Homo sapiens: one gene and its partners. The protein of the gene in region 1 purifies or fractionates together with the protein of each later gene. This does not show direct contact. Each region holds a gene or a part of one and is shown in the gene's direction. Other genes may lie near its edges. The genes, in order: LRPPRC, LONP1 and WAPL.

Evidence for each region.
Region 2: the proteins of LRPPRC (region 1) and LONP1 purify together in Homo sapiens (affinity purification with mass spectrometry; 2 studies listed by BioGRID and IntAct, with this or other methods). This does not show direct contact.
Region 3: the proteins of LRPPRC (region 1) and WAPL purify together in Homo sapiens (affinity purification with mass spectrometry; 2 studies listed by BioGRID, with this or other methods). This does not show direct contact.

The regions. Positions count from the first base shown.
Region 1 is NC_000002.12:43,971,963-43,979,069, reverse strand, and holds part of LRPPRC (leucine-rich PPR motif-containing protein, mitochondrial precursor), read left to right. Parts: intron 1-1,793; coding exon 1,794-1,915; intron 1,916-2,017; coding exon 2,018-2,076; intron 2,077-2,840; coding exon 2,841-2,927; intron 2,928-3,852; coding exon 3,853-3,979; intron 3,980-4,311; coding exon 4,312-4,456; intron 4,457-4,774; coding exon 4,775-4,920; intron 4,921-5,169; coding exon 5,170-5,275; intron 5,276-5,355; coding exon 5,356-5,463; intron 5,464-7,107. UniProt on the Homo sapiens protein: May play a role in RNA metabolism in both nuclei and mitochondria. In the nucleus binds to HNRPA1-associated poly(A) mRNAs and is part of nmRNP complexes at late stages of mRNA maturation which are possibly associated with nuclear mRNA export.
Region 2 is NC_000019.10:5,717,040-5,724,726, reverse strand, and holds the start of LONP1 (lon protease homolog, mitochondrial isoform 1 precursor), read left to right. Parts: upstream 1-4,580; 5' UTR 4,581-4,594; coding exon 4,595-5,023; intron 5,024-7,687. Other genes in the region: CATSPERD (cation channel sperm-associated auxiliary subunit delta), read right to left, coding at 3,919-3,989. UniProt on the Homo sapiens protein: ATP-dependent serine protease that mediates the selective degradation of misfolded, unassembled or oxidatively damaged polypeptides as well as certain short-lived regulatory proteins in the mitochondrial matrix.
Region 3 is NC_000010.11:86,469,736-86,476,842, reverse strand, and holds part of WAPL (wings apart-like protein homolog), read left to right. Parts: intron 1-2,869; coding exon 2,870-2,965; intron 2,966-4,078; coding exon 4,079-4,231; intron 4,232-4,498; coding exon 4,499-4,635; intron 4,636-5,739; coding exon 5,740-5,851; intron 5,852-7,107. UniProt on the Homo sapiens protein: Regulator of sister chromatid cohesion in mitosis which negatively regulates cohesin association with chromatin. Involved in both sister chromatid cohesion during interphase and sister-chromatid resolution during early stages of mitosis.

The DNA.
Region 1 (7,107 bases):
AAAATCTTAAAGTATAGAAAGATGCTTCTTTAATGTGTTAAAAATCTAAAACCGACAACAATCATGTATAATGCAATGAAATAAGATGTGAAACAATACAAGAAGTTATTATTTTTAGATGATGTGATTGTTTAATCTGCAAAATCCCAGAAAATCAGCTCACAGTAATTAGCTGGACTCACTAAATGTTTAAGAATCCATACCTCTTCTAGTTATAAAAGAAAATAGAGAAAAGAATCCAAGAAAGTATAGCTACAGATAAATAAAATATTTAGGACTATCCTTCAAAAAGTGAGTAGGACCTATGTGAAAAAAACTACAGGATAAAGACAGATTCTTCCTTCACAGTTTTGAATACATCTAGAATACATTTTGATAAGTTGATTTTTTTTTAAGTTAAAAACTATATAGATAAATGTTGACTTTCAGAATGGAAAAGGATTTTATAAGTATAAAAGGAGCAGAAAAGTAAAGCTAAAATATTGAATCTCTAAAAATTAGAAATTTCTGTATGTCAGTAAGTCATTGAACTGGGAGAAATATATGCAGAAAAGGTTACATTCTAAAATAGAAAAAAGCATTACACAGCAGTAATAACATTAATTCCTCCATATAAAGATTAACAATGTGTTATTATATTAACATTCTTTACAGATAGGTCTCTCCTGTATAAGTGTCTGCTTTATAAGGATGGAATCCATGGCTTCTTTATTTTCCTGTTTGACAGTAGCATGATGCTTTGTGTATAATGGCATTTGATACATACTTGTTGAATTAATATTGCCAGAAACCTTGTAGTTTGCCAGTTTGACTCTTGTTTACAGATTTATAAAGATACAAGAGATCTTTTAGCTTAAGTAACTTGTCCAAAATTACAGAATGAGCTGTTGACAGATCTGAGCTATCTGTAAGATGGGGCTGATAATAGTGTCTCAAAGTTGTTGTGAAGTTTGAGTGAGCCACTATATGTGGAACACTTAGCATAGTGCCTGAAACATAGTATGAAAGAAACATATCTGTTAAGATAAAAATGTGTATTAATTTAATGGAACAGCTCTCTGCTGCCTAAAATCACATACTCTCACCCCCAGATACTAACCATAGGCCTGTATGGTCACAGGCAGTTGAATAAAGATGTGAAATTTAATGCATGAAAATGTAGTGAGACATGTTACCACAAAATTGATATAAAGACCATGATGTCATGACTCAGTAGAGTAAGGCTGTGTGGTAACCTTATTTGATGTGGCCCTAAACAGTAGGGATACAAAGAAAACAAAGGTCATTAGAATACAGATAATTAACAAGAGCATACCATAGATCATGTTCATCAGCTGAAAATGGAATGCATCCTTAAAATGAAGGCTTTGAGTGACAGAATTGCCAGCACAGTCCTACTGTGTGAAAGAACTGAAGTTACAATCCATTCTTCACAGTGTGTCTGTAATGTGAGGACTGCTTTATATAGAAAAATCTTACAGTCACTTTTAAATATAGGGATATTGTCAGCGTTTTCTAACAGGAAGATAATTTTGTGCTTCATAAGTAAGAGGCCTTTTAATATCCGAATAGGCAGTTACTTGTAACTATACAGTAACTCAGTAATTACTGTCTTACATGCTTAGCTTGCTCTGTGTGACAGAGTATCTGTGTAGATAGGTCTGAGCGCCAAGATGGATGGGTGAAATGCTAAAGTGATAGTTTTACTCTTTTTGTTTGTTAAATTTAGGTCCACTTTAAAGCATAGGATTTTCAATGCTTTTCTAAAAATTCATTTTAAATTTCATTTGTAGGTGCTGTGTATGATGTGAGTCACTATAATGCTTTACTTAAAGTCTATCTTCAAAATGAATATAAATTCTCACCAACTGATTTCCTGGCAAAAATGGAGGAAGCAAACATTCAACCAAATCGAGTAAGTAGTTGCTATTGTGAATATATTTTCACATCCACCATTTTTTTTCTTTACTCAGAAAAAAAAGTATATTTAAAATTAACTGGCCCATTTCATTGACAGGTGACATACCAGAGATTGATTGCTTCTTATTGTAATGTAGGAGATATTGAAGGTGCCAGGTATGGATCTGTATGAACATGTTTAAGCGAACAAATTTGTACATTTTGTAAATCTAATGTCTGTTCACTCTTTGTTTTAAAGCTTCTTCCTAATGGAGGAAATTGTTTCAGAACTGTTTTAATCTAGAAAATCTGGTAATCTGACTTACATAAAATATAAAATTATCGTGTAAGAGAGAAAAGATAAGTAAAAGTTGCTATTTTAATTAAAAATTTGATTTACTGGAGAGAGGTATAAAGTTGTTGAGCTATAAAGCTGACTTTGCTTTTTTTTTTTTTTTTTTAAATATTTCCTAAGGGAAATGTTCTTAACCATTTAAGCTGTATTCATTTATAAAACTGGAAGTAGTGTAGAAAATCAGTTGCACCATTTCTCTGCTTATGTAAAATTTATTACTACTTATGAATGGAAGGTTTGGAAAATAAGGGATAAATTGGAATACATAATTTCATTTTTATCTAAAAGAATCTTATGAAACTATGCTTTTAAAAGGGTAATTAGTAGTGTAAGACAAATCAGATAATCAGATTTTTAAAAATCTAGTATTTGTATCGATAGTACTTCAAGACTGTTGATACATTAGAGAGTGGGGTTTTGTGGGAAGGGGATCAAAGGGATTAGTTCTTTCTTTGTGGTTTCTAAAACAAATGTATATTACTATTATATTTTAAAAACAAAAGTAACTCAAGGCCTAATTCTGTACATGTTGTAAAGAGTGTTCTTATAAATACTTTCAATGAGTATCTTCGTTTTTCCTTTGCAGCAAGATTCTTGGATTTATGAAAACTAAGGATCTCCCAGTTACAGAGGCAGTATTCAGTGCCCTTGTGACAGGGCATGCCAGAGCTGGGTAATGTTCAACCTAAGGTTTTGGTTCTTAAGTGATAGATGGCTGAGATGCTAAAGTGGTCATTTTACTCCTTTTTTGTTTGTTAAGTGGGGTTTAAATTAGAGAAAATTATTGTAGACAGTTCTTAAAATACATTTGTCTATCCCTTCAAAAAAAAATCTGTAGTATATGAGGTAGAGCATACTAATATTTTTATAATGAGCTTTTACATTTGTTCCACAAATCTTTCTTTTATTTGAATTTTTAGAAATTGGGCTTGAAGCCGGGCGTGGTGGCTCATGCCTGTAATCCCAGCACTTTGGGAGGCTGAGGTGGGCAGATCACCTGAGGTCAGGAGTTCAAGACCAGCTTGGCCAACATGGTGAAACCCGGTCTCTACAAAAATATAAAAATTTAGCCGGGCATGATGGCAGGTGCCTGTAATCCCAGCTACTTGGGAGTCTGAGGCAGGAGCGTTGCTTGAACCCGGGAGGCAGAGGTTGCAGTGAGCCGAGATTACACCATTGCACTCCAGCCTGGGAGACAGAGCAAGACTCCATCTCAAAAAAAAAAAAGAAAAAAGAAACTGGGCTTGATCTGATCTGAAGTAACTGCTCTGGAAAATATTTTTATTTTTGAAGAGTAATTTACTAAATGTTATTCTTACCTCGAAAGTTAAGTCTGAGTCATAACCTACATAATATTAAGAGGGTATGTTATTTAATGTCTATGTAATTATTATTATTTTTTAATGGGGGATCAGATGTTTATGATCTTTATTATTTCAGAAACATATATCCAGTTTAATATACATTAGTTCTTTTCTGACATCATAATTCCAAATGGTACTTAGCATTTTTTATTTTAATAAGCATATGTTTTAGTTTGAATAACTATATTAAATTTGGCAAAAGCATAATAATCTGTTTTTTGAATTAACTTGTAGTGATATGGAGAATGCAGAAAACATTCTCACAGTGATGAGAGATGCCGGAATTGAGCCTGGTCCAGACACATACCTCGCATTATTGAATGCATATGCTGAGAAGGGCGACATTGACCATGTTAAGCAGGTATGACTTATGTCTAAATAAACATACTTTAAAATCATTTGTAAAAATTTGTGTTATGTTTTACATGAGGCAGGAAAGTGAAGTTTATACCTGTTTTCAAAGATGTTTCCTTGCAGAAAGTAGTATTTATGGAGAATTATTATAGTTTAGTATCTCGGTGCTGGTATGTAACAGTTACTGTTGAAGTAGAGTATTTCCTGTTTTTTAAAAGAAGTCGTAAACCTTTAGGTGGTATTTTTCCCTAGTTTTTTGAATCTGGATATTTTATTTAGCTTTAATACTTAAATAAAAACACTCTAACTTTGTCTTCTAATTTCTGGAACTCTCTATAGACTCTGGAGAAGGTGGAGAAGTCCGAGCTTCACCTTATGGACCGTGATTTACTGCAAATTATTTTTAGCTTCAGTAAAGCTGGGTATCCTCAGTATGTCTCAGAAATTTTGGAAAAAGTTACATGTGAAAGAAGATATATTCCAGGTAGTTTTAAAAAAATCTATTTACATGATTTTTATAAAAATCTGAATTGCTATTCTTACATGATGGAAAGGACATTTTCTAACAATGGGCATTGTGGGAGTTGAACATAGAACTCTTAAAGTCAGTTAAATAAGCCCAAAAACATGAGTTAATGAACACATGGGGATGATTTGATTTGCAGGTGTTTTATTGTTATTTAGGCAGTTATATGCTTTTGATGTTTGCAATTCTTATTTTGTCTTCAGTATTGGAACATTGGTTGCAGTGTAAAAATATTGTTCAGTTTATTAACAAAAGATGTCTTTGTTTTCTTCCCAGATGCAATGAACCTCATTTTACTTTTAGTCACTGAAAAATTGGAAGATGTAGCGTTGCAAATTTTACTAGCATGCCCCGTATCAAAGGAAGATGGCCCAAGTGTCTTTGGCAGTTTCTTTTTACAACACTGTGTGACTATGAATACGGTATTCTGTCCACTTTTACTTTGTAGACAATGTAATTGGCAGTGAAATAAGATTCTTTAAAGTATAGGAACATTTATAAGATTAGACCAGTTGTAAACATCATAACAATGTTCTTGTGTTGCAAGATTTTTGGGTAGAAAGAGGATGCGGGGTTTAAAATGCTCATCTCAGAAGTGGTAGAATATTTGCAGCAGGTCAAACGGTGGGGTGTTTGCCAATCCAGCTAATGTGGTGACTTTTTTCCCACAGCCTGTGGAGAAGCTAACAGACTACTGTAAGAAGTTAAAGGAAGTCCAGATGCACTCCTTTCCTCTGCAGTTCACCCTCCATTGTGCTTTACTCGCCAATAAAACTGGTACTACATTCTTAAAGTTAAAGCCAAGTAAGGAAGTTTTGCTGAGGTAGCTTTGTGATCTTTTATGATATCTCTTTCAGATTTGGCAAAAGCCTTAATGAAGGCTGTGAAGGAGGAAGGTTTTCCTATCAGACCTCACTATTTCTGGCCATTGCTAGTTGGACGTCGGAAGGAAAAAAATGTTCAAGGTTAGATTTTGCCTTTTACCGATTTGTAATGGTTCCCAGAGCCAGTATGACAGTTTGCACGCACATCTAATTGGATTCTTTGGAAAAGCATACTTATTCCTGAGTATTATGAGATAATGGAATTGTTTTAAGTCATCATGAAGTATTATGTGTAAGCATTTTAAAAAACAAAACATGATGGATTTCTTTCATCTGAATTTCATTAATTTCATTTCTTATTTCATCTCTGATCTTGATATTCAAACTTAATGAACGTAGTTTTTTTAAGTTCTTAAAAAAACTCTTTAGTTCTTGATTTTATATATAGTGTTTGAAATCAGATTGTCTACCTTTAATAAAGATAAAGTTGTATATACAATTAGGTTCATGAAAACAAAAAGTATGGTCATTTTCTTTGTGGGCCAATCTATTTCTTTTTAACTGAGCTTAGTTAGAATAATAGGAAAGGCAGGAAAACTTTTATTGTGAAATGAGTACTCATGACCTGACAGCCTGCTGATTGAAGGACAAAAATGTTCAATCTTTCAGGTTCTTAAGTACGTTTAAGCATTTATCATACTTTTCCCTTGTACACATGGGATGTCTATAGGATATGAATAAGAATTGAACAAATATTAAATTTTAGAGTACAGTATCTAATTCTTCGGTTTGCATTATTGGTAATTCAGAAAGAGTAGTCTCATAAAAAGATGCTTTTAACAGAAGTACTTTCCCCTTGGGGAAACAAAAAATGGTCTTTTTCATTTTATCTCGAAGTATAATGTGCTTTGGAATGAGATGCAGAATTGTTAGTGTGACATTGGGTGACAAACAGAATGCACAAACAACAAAAAAAGTGCTTTTAGCAGACTTTCATATTGCAATTTTATTTTAAATGTACAGCCGTCTTCTGGTTTAAAGGAAATAGTGAAACAAGTATTCCCTAATTGTTTCTGGCTATAAAAGTCTCTAAATCCTTTTTAGAAAAATCTTTGTGAAAACAATATGCTAGTTTGATTAACTCTTTGTATATCCTCCAGTCTGAAAGCTCCAAAAGGTAACCTATAACCCAGTGTTTTGGAACCACAGAAAGTTTACATCATTCCATCAAACTCTTCAGGCATGTTAGTATTGTCCACCTTTACACAAGTATGAAAATTTTTTTGGTACCAGTTGAAATGTTTGTTCATCAGGTTAATCTGCTTTCCACAACCATGTCACAGTTGAATTGATTACTACATTTTTACTACTTAGTAAACATAAAAGAGTTAGGTAATTTCTTTCTATGGTTGTAGCAGTTGAAATAGTAGAAAATGGGCTTTATCTCAAATCCATCTTGTCTTAGAATCTCAGAATTTAGATTTTAAAAGTGCTGTACTGAAAGCTCACATTACGTGAATGAAGGAACTGAGGGCCACACAGACATTCAGTGACTGACCTTAGCTTCCACGTCTAGGTGTGATTAGGCTGGGATTAGAATAGAGGGTTTCTGTCCTCCTTTTAAAATATCCTTTTTTATACTATAACCCTTCCATATTCAGCTTTTGTAAGTACTATACTGTGTTTATTTTCTAAAAATTCTTAGCTGCTGTTTAAAAATTAGTTGCCAGTTTTTACACGAATAACATTGCTAAAAGAGAGTGAATTTTTTAATCGATGAAGGTT
Region 2 (7,687 bases), on another chromosome or scaffold:
ACCCTAAAGTATCTGTTCTTTTTTGGGGGGGACGGAGTCTCACTCTGTCGCCCAGGCTGGAGTGCAGTGGCAAGATCTTGGCTCACTGCAACCTCCGCCTCCCAGATTCAAGTGTTTCTCCTGCCTCAGCCGCCAGAGTAGCTGGGATTACAGGCGCGCGCCACAACACCTAGCTAATTTTTTATATTTTTAGTAGAGATAGGGTTTCACCACATTGGCCAGGCTGGTCCTGAACTCCTGACCTCGTGATCTGCCTGCCTTGGCCTCCCGAAGTGTTGGGATTACAGGCGTGAGCCACTGCGCCCAGCCAAGTATCTGTTCCTGATGCTTTTCGGGTTATAGGAGGCCCTAGAAAATTGGATGAGGCTGGGCGTGGTGGCTTATGTCTTTAATCCCAGCACTTTGGGAGGCCGAGGCAGGTGGATCACTTGAGGTCAGCAGTTCAAGACCAACCTGGCCAACTTGGTGAAACCCCATCTCTACTGAAAATACGAAAATTAGAGCCAGGTGCGGTGGCTCACACCTGTAATCCCAGCGCTTTGGGAGGTCAAGGTGGGTGGATCAGCTGAGGTCAGGAGTTCGAGATCAGCCTGGCCAACATCGTGAAATCTCGTCTCTACTAAAAATACAAAAAAGTTAGGCACGGTGGCTCACACCTGTAATCCCAGCACTTTGGGAGGCCAAAGCGGGTGGATCACCTGAGGTTGGGACTTCGAGACCAGCCTGAGCAACACGGAGAAACCCTGTCTCTACTAAATATACAAAATTAGCCTGTAATATACAAAATTAGCGTGTGGTGGCGCATGCCTGTAATCCCAGCTACTCAGGAGGCTGAGGCAGGAGAATCGCTTGAACCCGGGAGGCGGAGGTTATGGTGAGCTGAGATTGCACCATTGCACTCCAGCCCGGGCAACAAGAGTGAAACTCCATCTCAAAAAAAAAAACAAAAACAAAACAAAACAGGCTAGGTGTGGTGGCTCACGCCTGTTAATCCCAGCACTTTAGGAGGCCGAGGCGGGTGGATCACGAAGTCAGGAGATCGAGACCATCCTGGCTAACACGGTGAAACCCCGTCTCTACTAAAAACACAAAAAAATTAGCCGGGCGTGGTTGCGGCACCTGTAGTCCCAGCTACTCGGGAGGCTGAGGCAGGAGAATGGTGTGAACCCAGAAGGCAGAGCTTGCAGTGAGCCGAGATGGCGCCATTGCACTCCAGCCTGGGCAACAGAGCGAGACTCCGTCTCAAAAAAAAAAAAAAAAAAAAAAAATTAGCTGGGCAGGGTGGCGGGCGCCTGTTATCCCAGATACTCAGGAGGCTGAGGGCTGAGGCACTAGAATCGCTTGAACCTTGGAGGCAGAGGTTGCAGTGAGTTGAGCTCTTGCCACACTGCACTCCAGCCTGGGCGACAGAGCAAGCCTCCGTCAAAAAATAAAATTTGTATGAAACTCCTCTCCCAGAAACAGACATAAGTACACACAAAATGTAGAAATGATTTCTGAAAATTTCTTTTTTCTTTTTCTTTTTCTTTTTTTTTTTTTTGAGACAGAATCTCGCTCCGTCGCCCAGGCTGGAGTGCAGTGGCGCGATCTCAGCTCACTGCAAGCTCCACCTCCCGGGTTCACGCCATTCTCCTGCCTCAGCCTCCCGAGTAGCTGGGACTACAAGCGCCCGCCACCACACCGACTAATTTTTTGTATTTTTGGTAGAGACGAGGTTTCACCGTGTTAGCCAGGATGGTCTCGATCTCCTGACCTCGTGATCCGCCCGCCTCCACCTCCCAAAGTGCTGGGATTACAGGCGTGAGCCCCCGCGCCCGGCCAAGAATTTCTAAAGGCTCCTTCACAGACCCCAGCTGAGGAAAATTATGAAGTCCTGCAACAAGGTATTCGGGGCTCCTTAAGGGAGTGTGTGGTGACTGGAAGGATGGTATAGTTTACAGCAGAGGTGCTCAATCTTGAATATGCATCAGAATCACCGGGGTTGCGGGGGGGGGGGTCTTGATAAACCACCGTTTGCTGGGTCCCACTGCCAAGTCCCCGACTCAGTAGGTCCAGGGAACTGCATTTCTAACCAATTATAATAAATTCCAGGTGATCTTGATGCTGCTGGTCCAGGGACCATTCTTTGAGAGCCTGTGTGGGGAAATGAGAGAACTGGATATAACCCACATTTTCAGAACTCGAGACAAATCCTATTAGTAAATTTCACTGGAAAATGTTTCTCCCACTTACTAGGTATGTGTTGTTAGGCAAGTGTGTCTTTAACTTTCCTAAGTATGCTTTCGTATCTATAAAATAAGGGTGTTGGCCGGGCGCGGTGGCACACGCCTGTAAGCCCAGCACGTTGGGAGGCCGAGGCAAGTGAATCACGAGGTCAGGAGTTCGAGACCAACCTGGGCAACATGGTGGAACCCTGTCTCTACTAAAAACACAAAAAATTAGCTGCACGTGGTGGCAGGCGCCCATAATCCCAACTACTCTGGAGGCTGAGGCAGGAGAATTGCTTGAACTTGGGAGGCGGAGGTTGCAGTGAGCCGAGACCGTGACATTGTACTCCAGCCTGGGCGACGAGAACAAGACTCCATCTCAAAAAAATAAAATAAGGGTATGGCTGGGCATGGGTGGCTCATGCCTGTAATCCCAACACTTTGGGAGGCTGAGGCAGGAGGATCACTGGAGCCTAGGAGTTCAAGACCAGCCTGGGCAAAACAGTGAGACCCCATCTCTTTTTTTTTTTTTTTCCTTTGAGACAGAGTCTCCCTTTGTCACCCAGGCTGGAGTGCGATCTCAGCTCACTGCAACCTCCACCTCCTGAATTCAAGCGATTTTTCTGCCTCAGCCTCCCAAGTAGCTGGGATTACAGGCACCTGCCACCAAGCCTGGCTAATTTTTGTATTTTTAGTAGAGACGAGGTTTCATCATGTTGGCCAGGCTGGTCTGGAACTCTTGACCTCAAGTGAGTGATCTGCCCACCTCTACCTCTCAAAGTGTTGGGATTACAGGCGTGAGCCACTGCACCCAGCCAGTGAGACCCCATCTGTACAAAAAATAATAATAAATAAAATAAAATAAGGTTAAGGAATCATTATGAATCTTCCTGTAAACATCAAATGAGGCCATACACCCTAAGAATACAGCTCACAGGTCCCTACTGAATGTGACAGTTTAGTCCAGATGGGAGTTCCCTGAGGGCAGGAACGGAGTTTCAGCAACTGGTCCCCATGGCAGGTTGGAGTATGCACTAACCTAACATTTACTGAAATTTCAAAATGTGCTGGGTAAGGCTGGGCGCGGTGGCTCACGCCTGCAATCCCAGCACTTTGGGAGGCGGGGGTTGCAGTGAGCAGAGATCGCGCCACTGCACTCCACCCTGGGAAACAGAGCAAAAACTCCGGCTCCAAAAAGAAAAAGAAGTGGGAGGGCTAGGCCCGGCGTGGTGGCTCACGCCTGTAATCCCAGCACTTTGGGAGGCCGAGGCAGGCGGGTCACGAGGTCAGGAGATCGGGACCATCCTGGCTAATACGGTGAAACCCCCGTCTTTACTAAAAATACAAAAAAAAATTAGCCGGGCGTGGTGGCAGGCGCCTGTAGTCCCAGCTACTCAGGAGGCTGAGGCAGGAGAATGGCGTGAATCCGGGAGGCGGAGCTTGCAGTGAGCCGAGATCGCGCCACTGCACTGCAGCCTGGGCGACAGAGCGAGACTCCGTCTCAAAAAAAAAAAAAAAAAGAGGTAGGAGAGCTTAATATCGGGCTGGGAGGATGGGGTGGAGTAGGGTGAGCGAGGCGTCAAGTTCGATTCCTAAAAAGAGTAAAAGGGGAGCCTCAGTGAGGTTGGGGAGCAGGCCTCGGCTCCAAGATGAACCAGCACCCTCCCGACCCCCGGCAGCACCCCAGCCCCAGGAGTCCTGGCAGCCCCACCGACAGAGCTGAGCTGTGACCAGCGGTCGGAGCCACATGGTCACAGCCGCCACCAGCATCAACATCAGCATCGACTTGGGCTTCCGCCGCCACCACTGCCCCTCAACCGCCACGGGGAGTCGCTGCACAATCCGAGTACGTGCAGGCTGAAGCCCTGCGCATGCGCATCAATGAGTCCCGGGAGCGGGCCTCCGCGCACTGCAGCCCGGCGCTCCGCCTGAATCTTGAGCATGCGCAGACGAATCCCGGGAAGCCCGAATCCGCGCACCCCAAAGTGCGCTCAGAGCCTGAGTATGCGCACCCGGCCACCCGTGGCCAGTCTAGAGTCTGAGCATGCGCATGTTGTCCGCGCGCCTAAGCATGTGCACAGGCTGCTCATGAGTTCCTAAACGTTGCGTTTGCAACACTACCAGTGTTTTGTACGGGCGCTGGCGCCTGCTCACAGCCTTCCACGTGACCGGAAAAGGCCTTCAGCGCATAAAGTGGGAGACCGGAAGAGGCGGAGACGATCCGATGCTCGAACTCCGCCCCCTCTTCTCCGCGTAGGCCCAGCTCCCTGAAGCGGCTGTTTCGAGCCACGCGCCCATCGGGTACCGAGGCACGCGCCGGGCGTCACGTGCGTTTCGCGGCGAGCGGAAATGACGCGAGTTGTGTGAGCCGCCAGTATGGCCGGGCTATGGCGGCGAGCACTGGCTACGTGCGACTGTGGGGAGCGGCGCGGTGCTGGGTGCTGCGGCGGCCGATGCTGGCCGCCGCCGGGGGGCGGGTTCCCACTGCAGCAGGAGCGTGGTTGCTCCGAGGCCAGCGGACCTGCGACGCCTCTCCTCCTTGGGCACTGTGGGGCCGAGGCCCGGCAATTGGGGGCCAATGGCGGGGGTTTTGGGAAGCGAGCAGCCGCGGCGGAGGCGCATTCTCGGGGGGCGAGGACGCCTCCGAGGGCGGCGCGGAGGAAGGAGCCGGCGGCGCGGGGGGCAGCGCGGGCGCCGGGGAAGGCCCGGTCATAACGGCGCTCACGCCCATGACGATCCCCGATGTGTTTCCGCACCTGCCGCTCATCGCCATCACCCGCAACCCGGTGTTCCCGCGCTTTATCAAGATTATCGAGGTAATGGGAGTCCCCGCCTCGGCCTCAGGTTTCCCACCTGTGCAAGCAGCGGGCTGAACCGTGGGATCACTTGAGCGCCCTTGTGTTTCGCAACTTTTTCAGACATGAAGTTTCTCGAAGGGTGCAGTTCGAATCCTTGTCTGCTCACCACTAGCTTGGGAACCTTGAGCCAAAGTCCTCTCCCTTTCGGATTTCTTAGGATCCGTTAGATGAGAGGAGTTGAACCCGATGAGCCTAGGATTATCCACTTTAGAACGCCGGTCATAGAAATCCGGGGCCGGGAGGGACCTGAGTAGTGTTACGGCGCTGTTAGTTTTCTCCTTACTTGGCACGAGTTTTGTAATACCTCCTCGCCCCAGGCGCTCTGCCGTCTGGTTACGAGCCTCACTGGGATCAGAATTCATTCCTTTCTTAGACAAATACTTCTTGATTGCTTATTATTTGCCAGAGAGTGTTCTAGGTTCTGGGGATATGGCAGTGAACAAAACAGACAAAAATTTCTGCCTTTGAAGCTGGGCATGGTGGCGCGCGCTGTACTCCCAGCTACTCTGGCGGCTGAGGTGGAAGGATTGTTGGAAACCTGGAGTCCAGCCTGGTCAACATGGCGAGACCCTGTCTCTTAAAAAATAAATCTGCCTTGGAGCTTACATTTTGGCAGGATGAGACAGGCAATAAAGATGTTTAGTAACGATATTGTATTAGAAGGCAATAATTACGAGAAATAGTAGAGCATGGATGGGACAGGAGGCTTAGGAGGGTGGGAAGAGGTGGGTTATTCAGTGTGTTCTTGACCTCCTACCACGTAGCAAGTTCTGAGAATACTGTAGAGAACAAGTCATTCCGGTGGTAGAAATTAGATCATTTCAGACTAAGAGCCTTGGGGGTGGGGAGGGAGCAGGATGATGTAATAGAGAGAAAGCAGTGAGTGTAAGGAACTTGAGCTTTTACAGTAGGAAGGCCCCAAAAGCCTTCTCCCCCAGCTCCCCTTCCCTTAAAAAAAAAAACTACTGATGTGGAAAGTGGCATCTATGGGAAGGTTATCTCCTAACTGGCAGAGCAAGGTCACGCAGTGAGTCAGCCTCTGCGCTCACTCTCCAGACTCTTCTAAACAAATCTCAAGGATCTGTTGGGAAGGGAAAGGCCATTTCAGAGGGGCAGCAGCCAGTAGAGAGGGGACAGAGGGAGCTTCTCCAACGCTGCTCCAAGATTTTTTTTTTTTTTTTTTTGAGACCAAGTTGCACTCTGTCATCTAGGCTAAAGTGCAGTGGCGCGATTTCAGCTCACTGCAACCTCTGCCTCCCGGGTTCAAGTGATTCTCCTGCCTCAGCCCCCTGAGTAGCTGGGATTACAGGCGCCCGCCACCGTGGCTGGCTAATTTTTCTATTTTTAGAAGAGACAGGGTTTCACCATGTTGCCCACGCTCGTCTCGAACTCCTGACCTCAAGTGATTCACCCGCCTCAGCCTCCCAAAGTGCTGGGATTGCAGGTGCGAGTCACTGCGCCCGGCCCCAAGGCCTTTCCTTGATGTTGAGTACTGGTTACTGATGCAGGCCCCCAGAGCAAGACCTTGTGGGGTCCTATCCTAGCTCCATAACCTTCAGCAAGTTATTCCTTTGGCTTCCCTCTTCTCATCTGTGACCTGGACATATTAGTGTCTTATTAGAGTTGTTGTGGGATTTAAATGAGGCCATGTGGGCTGGGCACGGTGTCTCACATGTTTAATCCCAGCACTTTGGGAGGCTGAGGCAGGAGCATAATTTGAAACCAGTATGGTCAACATAGACCCTGTCTCTACAAAAAAAAAAAAAAAAAGAAAGAAAGAAAAGCCGGGCACAGTGGCATGCACCTGTCTTCCCAGCTACTTGGAAGGCTGAGGCAGGAGGATCACTTGAAACTGGGAGATCAAGGCTGCAGTGAGCCATGGTGTCACCACTGCACTGCAGCCTGGGCAACAGAATGAGGCCCTGCCTCAGCAATAACGTGATGCTGTTTCCTCTTTGGTGTACTTCTGACATTTCAGGACTCTGCCCCGGAGGCCTTTTTCCCATCCTTGACTTCACCCCTGGCAGTTCTCTTTACCCTCCCAGGTTTCTGGGCCCAGGATGGTGTTCATCAGGCCTGGTCCCCTCCGTTCTGCAGAGCGACAGATGCCCCTTGCTCCCGGTGCCTGAGCAGAGAGATGATTCTTCTAAGAGAGTTCAGACGGCCCACGTGGAGCTAGCCAGGAGAGTTAAATGAGTGGCTGCAGATAGTATTTGGGAGACTGGCAGGTGGTTCTCATTGTATTTCTGGTTGATGATGCATTGTAAATCATAAAAATGGATCCTGCCAAGGCCAGGAGGCAGATGCCAAGGATGCAGCTATCAGCTGTTGGCAGAGGGGAAATTGGGAGGCAACTTCTTTGGGACCCAATAAATGTTTCTGAAATTGTTAGCAAAGCTTGATTTACTCTTCAGTTTGTACTTGACTTGTCTGGCCAACTTGCTCTAGAAGCTTCTCTCCTATTAGCAACTTTTGAGTAAGGAACAATGGCTCTTAATTTTTGGTGGGTATTAAAGAATAAATCATAAGTGTTAGAAGTATTAGTTTCTTTTAAAAACTAACTTCGTGGGCTGGGCGCGGTGGCTCACGCCTGCAATCCCAGCACTTTGGGAGGCTGAGGTG
Region 3 (7,107 bases), on another chromosome or scaffold:
TATTCCATTTGTTTATCATATTCTTTATTAGGTAGGTAGGCTATATATTTCTGTTTTCTTACGAATGTGTTAGACTTAAACCTAGCAGCACATCATCACATAACAATTAATAATAACATTTAATACTTACAAAGCACTTTTTTTTTTTTTTTTTTAAAGACAGTCTCGCTTTGTCGCCCAGGCTGGAGTGCAGTGGCGCAATCTCGGCTCACTGCAACCTCCACCTCCCGGGTTCAACTGATTCTCCCGCCTCAGCCTCCTGAGTAGCTGGTACTGCAGTTACTCACCACCATGCCTGGCTAATTTTTGTATTTTTAGTAGAGACGGGGTTTCATCCTGTTGGCCAGGCTGGTCTCAAACTCCTGACCTCAGTCGATCCGCCTGCCTTGGCCTCCCAAAGTGCTGGGATTACAGGCGTGAGCCACCACACCCGACAGCACATATTCTTTCAGGCACTCTTACAGTGTTTTAATTTTTTGAGACAGAGTCTCGCTCTGTCGCCCAGGCTGAAGTGCAATGGCACCATCTCAGATCACTGCAACCTCCGACTCCCGGGTTCTAGCAATTCTCCTCCCTCAGCCTCCCAAGTAGCTGGGACTGCAGGTGCCCACCACCGTGCCCCGCTAATTTTTTGTATTTTTAGTAGAGACGGGGTTTCACCGTGTTAACCAGGATGGTCTCAATCTCCTGACCTCGTGATCCGCCCGCCTCAGCCTCCCAAAGTGCTGGGATTACAGGCGTAAGCCACCGTGCCCGGCCTAGTCAGTGCTTTTTAAAAATAATTTCTCTTTTTGCTTCTTTAATTTCTTTAATTTTATTTTTTGTAGAGACAGGATCTTGCTTTCTTGCCCAGGCTGTTGTGAACTCCTGGCTTCAAGTGATCTGCTTCCTGCCTCGGCCTAGAGGCGTGCTGCAATTACTGGCATGAGCCACTGTGCCTAGCCCAATCAATGCTTTTTAAAAAGAAGTAAAATGCTTGAGCTTTGAGGCACTCATTCTTGCCAAAAGGCTGTTGTTACCAGAGCCTGGGCTCTGAGTATGCTTGAGGTACTAAAGGTAGTTCAAATTAGGGATCCATAACTAGCAGACACACAAGTTACATAGCTGGTCTTTGAAAAGAATGGAAGGAATAGAGAGGTTGGTTTTAAAATTTATGTTCAGTCCACTTTATGTGTTGTGTCTCAGGAAGCCAGATCAAGTCATTGCATGAGTGCATAAATTGTTTCAGATTGCTAATGCATCATCATGTTATGCAAACCTGGCATTTATGAATGATGGGTTTGTGTACACAATCCAAATGAGAATTTTTCCACTTTATTAGAGATAATATATTAAAAGCTAACGATTAGTTCACACTAATGCTTAATGCTAATTATGTTGCTTCAGTGCAGCTAGTAAGGGGATATAGTTAAGTTTTTTAATGTAGATTTTTTGACGGTCTTGAAGTATGATTTTCCACTTGTCTTCTTATTTTTGTTGTACTGAAAATAAGATGTGTTTCATAAGAGAAAATCTCTAATTTGTCCAAACCATGTATTTGAAGTTCAAAACATAATTTAACGTCACTTTTGTAGAGGATAGAGAGGATGAGGTGTTACCTTTCTATTTTGTCTTTGTAATTATGCAGTTTTCTCTTGAAAGTGAGGGTTTTGTTCTTTTACTTGATTTGATTTTGTAGGTTTACTGTCATTTATTCTCAATTCGGAAATTCAGTGTTAAAACTGAAAATCCCCTGGAAGTTTAAGTAAATTGATAGGGCAGCACAATAACCTCAATTGATGTGTGAGGGACTTTACATCTTTGTCCTGCTTAGTGTAACATTTTGCTGCAGAAATCATGTATGTTATTACATGGTACTTTTTTGGATCCCACTGTGTCTTGGAATATGTGGTATATGTATTATATTTACCTTGATAAAATTTGAGAACTCTTGAGTGGTGGCACACAGCTGGCTGCAGTGGTTTGCTTTAAATGAGCGCATTGTCTGTCATAAACTGCTGGATTCCCATTGTTGGAAGATTGTGAGGCATGAATTGGTAGTAGGAAGAATAAAGTTTTGCCAAAGAACCCATTGAACTATTATTATTATCATCATTACTATTTTTTAAATTTTTTTGAGACGGAGTCTTGCTTTGTCACCCAGGTTGGTCTTGAACTCTGGGGCTCACCCAGGTTGGTCTTGAACTCCTGGACTCAAGTGATCCTCCTTCCTCACTCTCCCAAAGTGCTGGGATTACAGGCATGAGCCATCATGCCCAGCCCATGTTGAGTTAAATGTGTTGATTACTTAGTAAGCCTAGCAAGAGGTTTACCTTTTTTTTTTTTTTTTGAGACGGAGTCTCACTCTGTCACCCAGGCTGGAGTGCAGTGGCACAGTCTTAGCTCACTGCAACCTCTGCCTCCGGATTCAGGTGATTCTCCTGCCTCAGCCTCCCAAATAGCTGGGATTACAGATGCCTGCCACCATGCCCAGCTAATTTTTTTTATTTTTAGTAGAGATGGGGTTTCACTATGTTGACCAGGCTCGTCTCAAACTCCTGACCTCAAGTGATCCACCCGCCTTGGCCTCCCAAAGTGCTGGGATTGCAGGTGTGAGCCACCATGTCTGGCCTAGGTTTACTTTCAAGTGCCATCTTTTCTTGGTTAGTCATAGTTGCACAGAGCACTAATTACTGATTTTGTGACCTAGTACTACAGTGATTATATTTGCCATAGACATGAGAATGGGAATTATGGTGGGACTGTTCCCAGATAGTATCCATCCTGCTGTTTCTAGGACATGTTTATGCATATAAATTATTCTTTATGATTTTTAGTTGAGAGTCTTTTATAAGGATGGAAGCAGTTGATCTTTCTCTCATTTCTCTAGTCACCCACAAAAGCTGTATATAATGCCAGACATTGGAATCATCCAGATTCAGAAGAACTGCCTGGGCCACCAGTAGTAAAACCTCAGAGTGTCACAGTAAGTGAACTGTACTTATTTATTTTGTGTTTTTTAATAAGCTATAAATTAAGCAGTTACTCTTTTAATTCATAATTTGTAAATCTTTGACTTTTCTATTTAACAGTTTATTTTGGCTTTCTTTACTGAAACTTATTAGTTTCAGTTTAATTCATTGGAAAACTGAGGATTGTCAGTAAGATAGCAGAAATTCTAGTGCTGCTAGGTTAAACAATGAAAGCCATAAAAAATAAGGCTCTTGTTACTCATGACCCACATTTCATGGAATTTATAGTATTTAGTGTTTAAGAGCAAGATTGTCCATATTTGATGTTTGTATAAGAGCTATGTTGTGTATTACATCCTATATATATTTCTAAGTGGCTTTCAGTGCTTAATTTGCTTTTCAGAGACAAATCTCTTCCTGTATTCTAGTAATACTTTTCAATCCAAAACATTAGGAAAAAGATTCTTAGCAACTTATTTTCTCCAGAATGACTGGTAATATCATACATGATTTCTAGGTTAACAGTAAAGCTTCAGTCATCTGGAGTTATCAAGTAACTTAGTTCTTTATAACAATAAGAAATTTGGGGATAGAAGTCTTTCTAAAGTATAATGTACAGTTCCCTGTCTTCTTAAACTGATTAGACTCCTTTTGATAGTATAAAGAAATCATTTTGTATATTAGTAGTAATATAGCATGCTCCTGTTATAGCTATTTATTTTTACCCTAAACTACTTCACACTCTTGTGCTACTAAAATTCTTTTGACTCTGTCTGGTTTTTCTGTCCTGTCCCTTTCTGCTTATGAAAGCTATTTTTGCATGCAGTTGTGGTTCTTTAGTCTTTCTAATGGTACTAGAGACAAACGACAAATTGTGTGAAATAAAAAGTTTAAAAAAGACCAGAAGAAATCCTTGAGTGGTTCTTCTGTGTGCAGATATACATATGTCTTACCTGTTAGTGCATGGAATTCAAAGTATTTCTAAAGACCTTTGAGAGGCCTCCCTGCTCCCTGCTTTTTAAAAAGCTTTATTTACTTTTTTTTGAAGCTGAATTTGCCAGATAGATGAGACGTTCCTATTTTTATATATTTATTTAGAACAACTAATTTAATACCTTTATTAATAGGTGAGGCTGTCTTCAAAGGAACCAAATCAAAAAGATGATGGAGTTTTTAAGGCTCCTGCACCACCATCCAAAGTGATAAAAACTGTGACAATACCTACTCAGCCCTACCAAGATATAGTTACTGCACTGAAATGCAGACGAGAAGACAAAGAAGTAAGCAGCCATATACAGTGTTTACTGCATGTTGATAGATTTTTGTATGTAACATTTAGCCATTTAATATCTTCAACAAATATCAGTATACTGATACTCAGTTTTGAACCACAAACTTCTTTTGTCCTACCATCATCCTTGTTCTAAAAATATTTTTGTTGCCATCTAATGAACTATTTTATGCACTTATGTAAAGTACAGTGAGCCCATAGATTTAAATATGCTAGTTCCTAGTTAAAAAGGGGTGAACTTTTTTTTTCTTGGCAGTTATATACTGTTGTTCAGCACGTGAAGCACTTCAACGATGTTGTAGAATTTGGTGAAAATCAAGAGTTCACTGATGACATTGAGTACTTGTTAAGTGGCTTAAAGAGCACTCAGCCTCTAAACACACGTTGCCTTAGGTAAGATCTTATTTTTATATTTTACAATTATGTGCATGCTGTATTAAATTTTTTCAACTAGGTGTTGTCCAAAAAGCCAAACATTTTTTATTTTGTTATGATGGGGTAGTATGTATAGCCAGTGATATGTTAAAATGCTATCCATTTCTTTATAAAGAATTTGATTCTGCATGATAAGAGGGAAAGCTGGGTGATGAGAGCCTTTTTAATATAGCATAGGCTTCAGTTTTCAAGAGCTTAAAAAAAAAAAAAAATTACGCTAAAGCATCTTTTTGCCTTGTGTGGTGGCTCATACCTATAATCCCAGCATTTTGGGAAGCCAAGTTGGGAGGATCATGTGTGTCCAAGAGTTCGAGACCACCTTGGGCAACATAGTGAGACCCCATGTCTACAAAAAATAAAAAATTAATGAGTCATGGTGGCATATGCCTGTAGTTCCAGCTACTTGGGAGGCTGAGGTGGCAGGATGGCTTGAGCCCGTGATCATGCTGCTGCACTCCAGCCTGGATGATAGAGTGAGGTGAGGCCCTGTCTCCAAAAACAAGAAAGAAAAAATTACCAGAAAGAAATAAAGTAAATAATTAAAAAAAAATCTTTTAAGTTCTTTTTACCTCTGATGTTCAAGTAATAAGTTAGATTTATTTAAGCATATTGTGATCTGGACGCTTACATTTGTACCCAAATGCTCAAAAAGATGATCTTTTGTATTTCCTAATGGATTGATTGAATACTATAATTTTGATTAAATTTTTCAGTCATTTGGAGTATATCCAATCAAATATAATTAATTAATTGTGATTTTTATCAGAAGTATTAATGAAAGGCAGCTCAGATTTTAAGCTTTTAATGGTGGTAGTAGTAACGTAAGGAATGCACTAAAGACAATTACGTTATTTTTTTAAAATACAGTGTACCTAATCATGCACTAGGCATCAGTATATTTTTAATAATGTGTTTTGCCTATGGTTTTTATATTGTGATCATGTATGGGCAATGCTTTGACCCTTTTACCCCCTTCCTATTTGCTGGTTTTGGTATTACACAAACTCAAAACTAATGTACTAGCTGTTTCCAGCCCCCCTAACCTGCTCTATTTTCTTGTAGTGTTATTAGCTTGGCTACTAAATGTGCCATGCCCAGTTTTCGAATGCACCTGAGAGCACATGGGATGGTAGCAATGGTCTTTAAAACCTTGGATGATTCCCAGCACCATCAGGTATTTTTTAAGTTTCTGAGATTGAGAAGCCTTATGTTGAAAACTACTAGTCTATTTGGCTATCAAAAATATCTTCACTGAATATTCTATAAATATATCCTAATTATAGATTGAGTTCATTTTATTTGCTAAATTTGTAGTGCTTATGGCCAGAAGCTTTTGCTTAATACTTATTTTATCATGAAAACGTGAAAACATTTTTTCTTAATGTGTCATTTTATACTTTTAAAATTGTATTTTGTTATCTTAGCTAATGTAGTATATTGATACAGAATTTTGTAAGCATAATTTTCTCTATAATCAGAAAGCACTGAGAAGAATCTTTTAATATTATTTGATACTAATGAATGGAAAAAAACTGGTTTGGAAATGCAGCCCTAATTTTTTAGAAACGTTTTTGTCCAGTGTTGAATCTGGAACATGGCCTCATTGTGATAAGGAATAATTTCTTCATTTTCCTTGCCTTTGATGCTTTTGCATAATGATAAACATAACAAAAGTTATTAGGTTTAACATTTTCCAAAATTAGAAGAAAGTAACCATCATTGCTAATTATTAGCATTAGTAGTATTTTGAGATGGCCTTACTATATTTTTGTTAAAGAAATTATGTTCTAAATACAGATTAGGTGATAATTAATTTAATACTGCATCTTCTGGGCTGGGCGCGGTGGCTCATGCCTGTAATCCCAGCACTTTGGGAGGCCAAAGTGGGCAGATCATCTCAGGTCAGGAGTTTGAGATCAGCCTGGCCAACATGGTAAAATCCTGACTCTACTAAAAATACAAAAAATTAGCTGGGTGTGGTGGCAGGCACCTGTAATCCCAGCTACTTGGGAGGCTGAGGCAGGAGAATTGCTTGAACCCGGGAGGTGGAGGTTGTAGTGATCTGAGGTTGTGCCACTGCACTCCAGCCTGGGAGACAGAGCGAGACTCTGTCTCAAAAAAAAAAAAAGAAGTTAGTTTGTTGCTGGGCAAGGTGGTGTGCATTCGTAAGTCCTAGCTACTCTGGAGACTAAGGGAGGATCTCTTGAGCTCAGGAGTTCAGATCCATTTTGGGAAACCTAGTGAGACCTCATCTCTTAAAAACAAACAAAAAAGAGAATTCGTTTGCTTTGTTATGCAGTTAACAGTGAACTTAGACATTACAGTGTGATTTTTAAGGGCAGTGGATCCCCCATGGCCTTTACAATGCATCCTAATTTCCAAAAATAATTTGCTGTATAAACATTTAATCAGACACCTGGTCTGATGCTT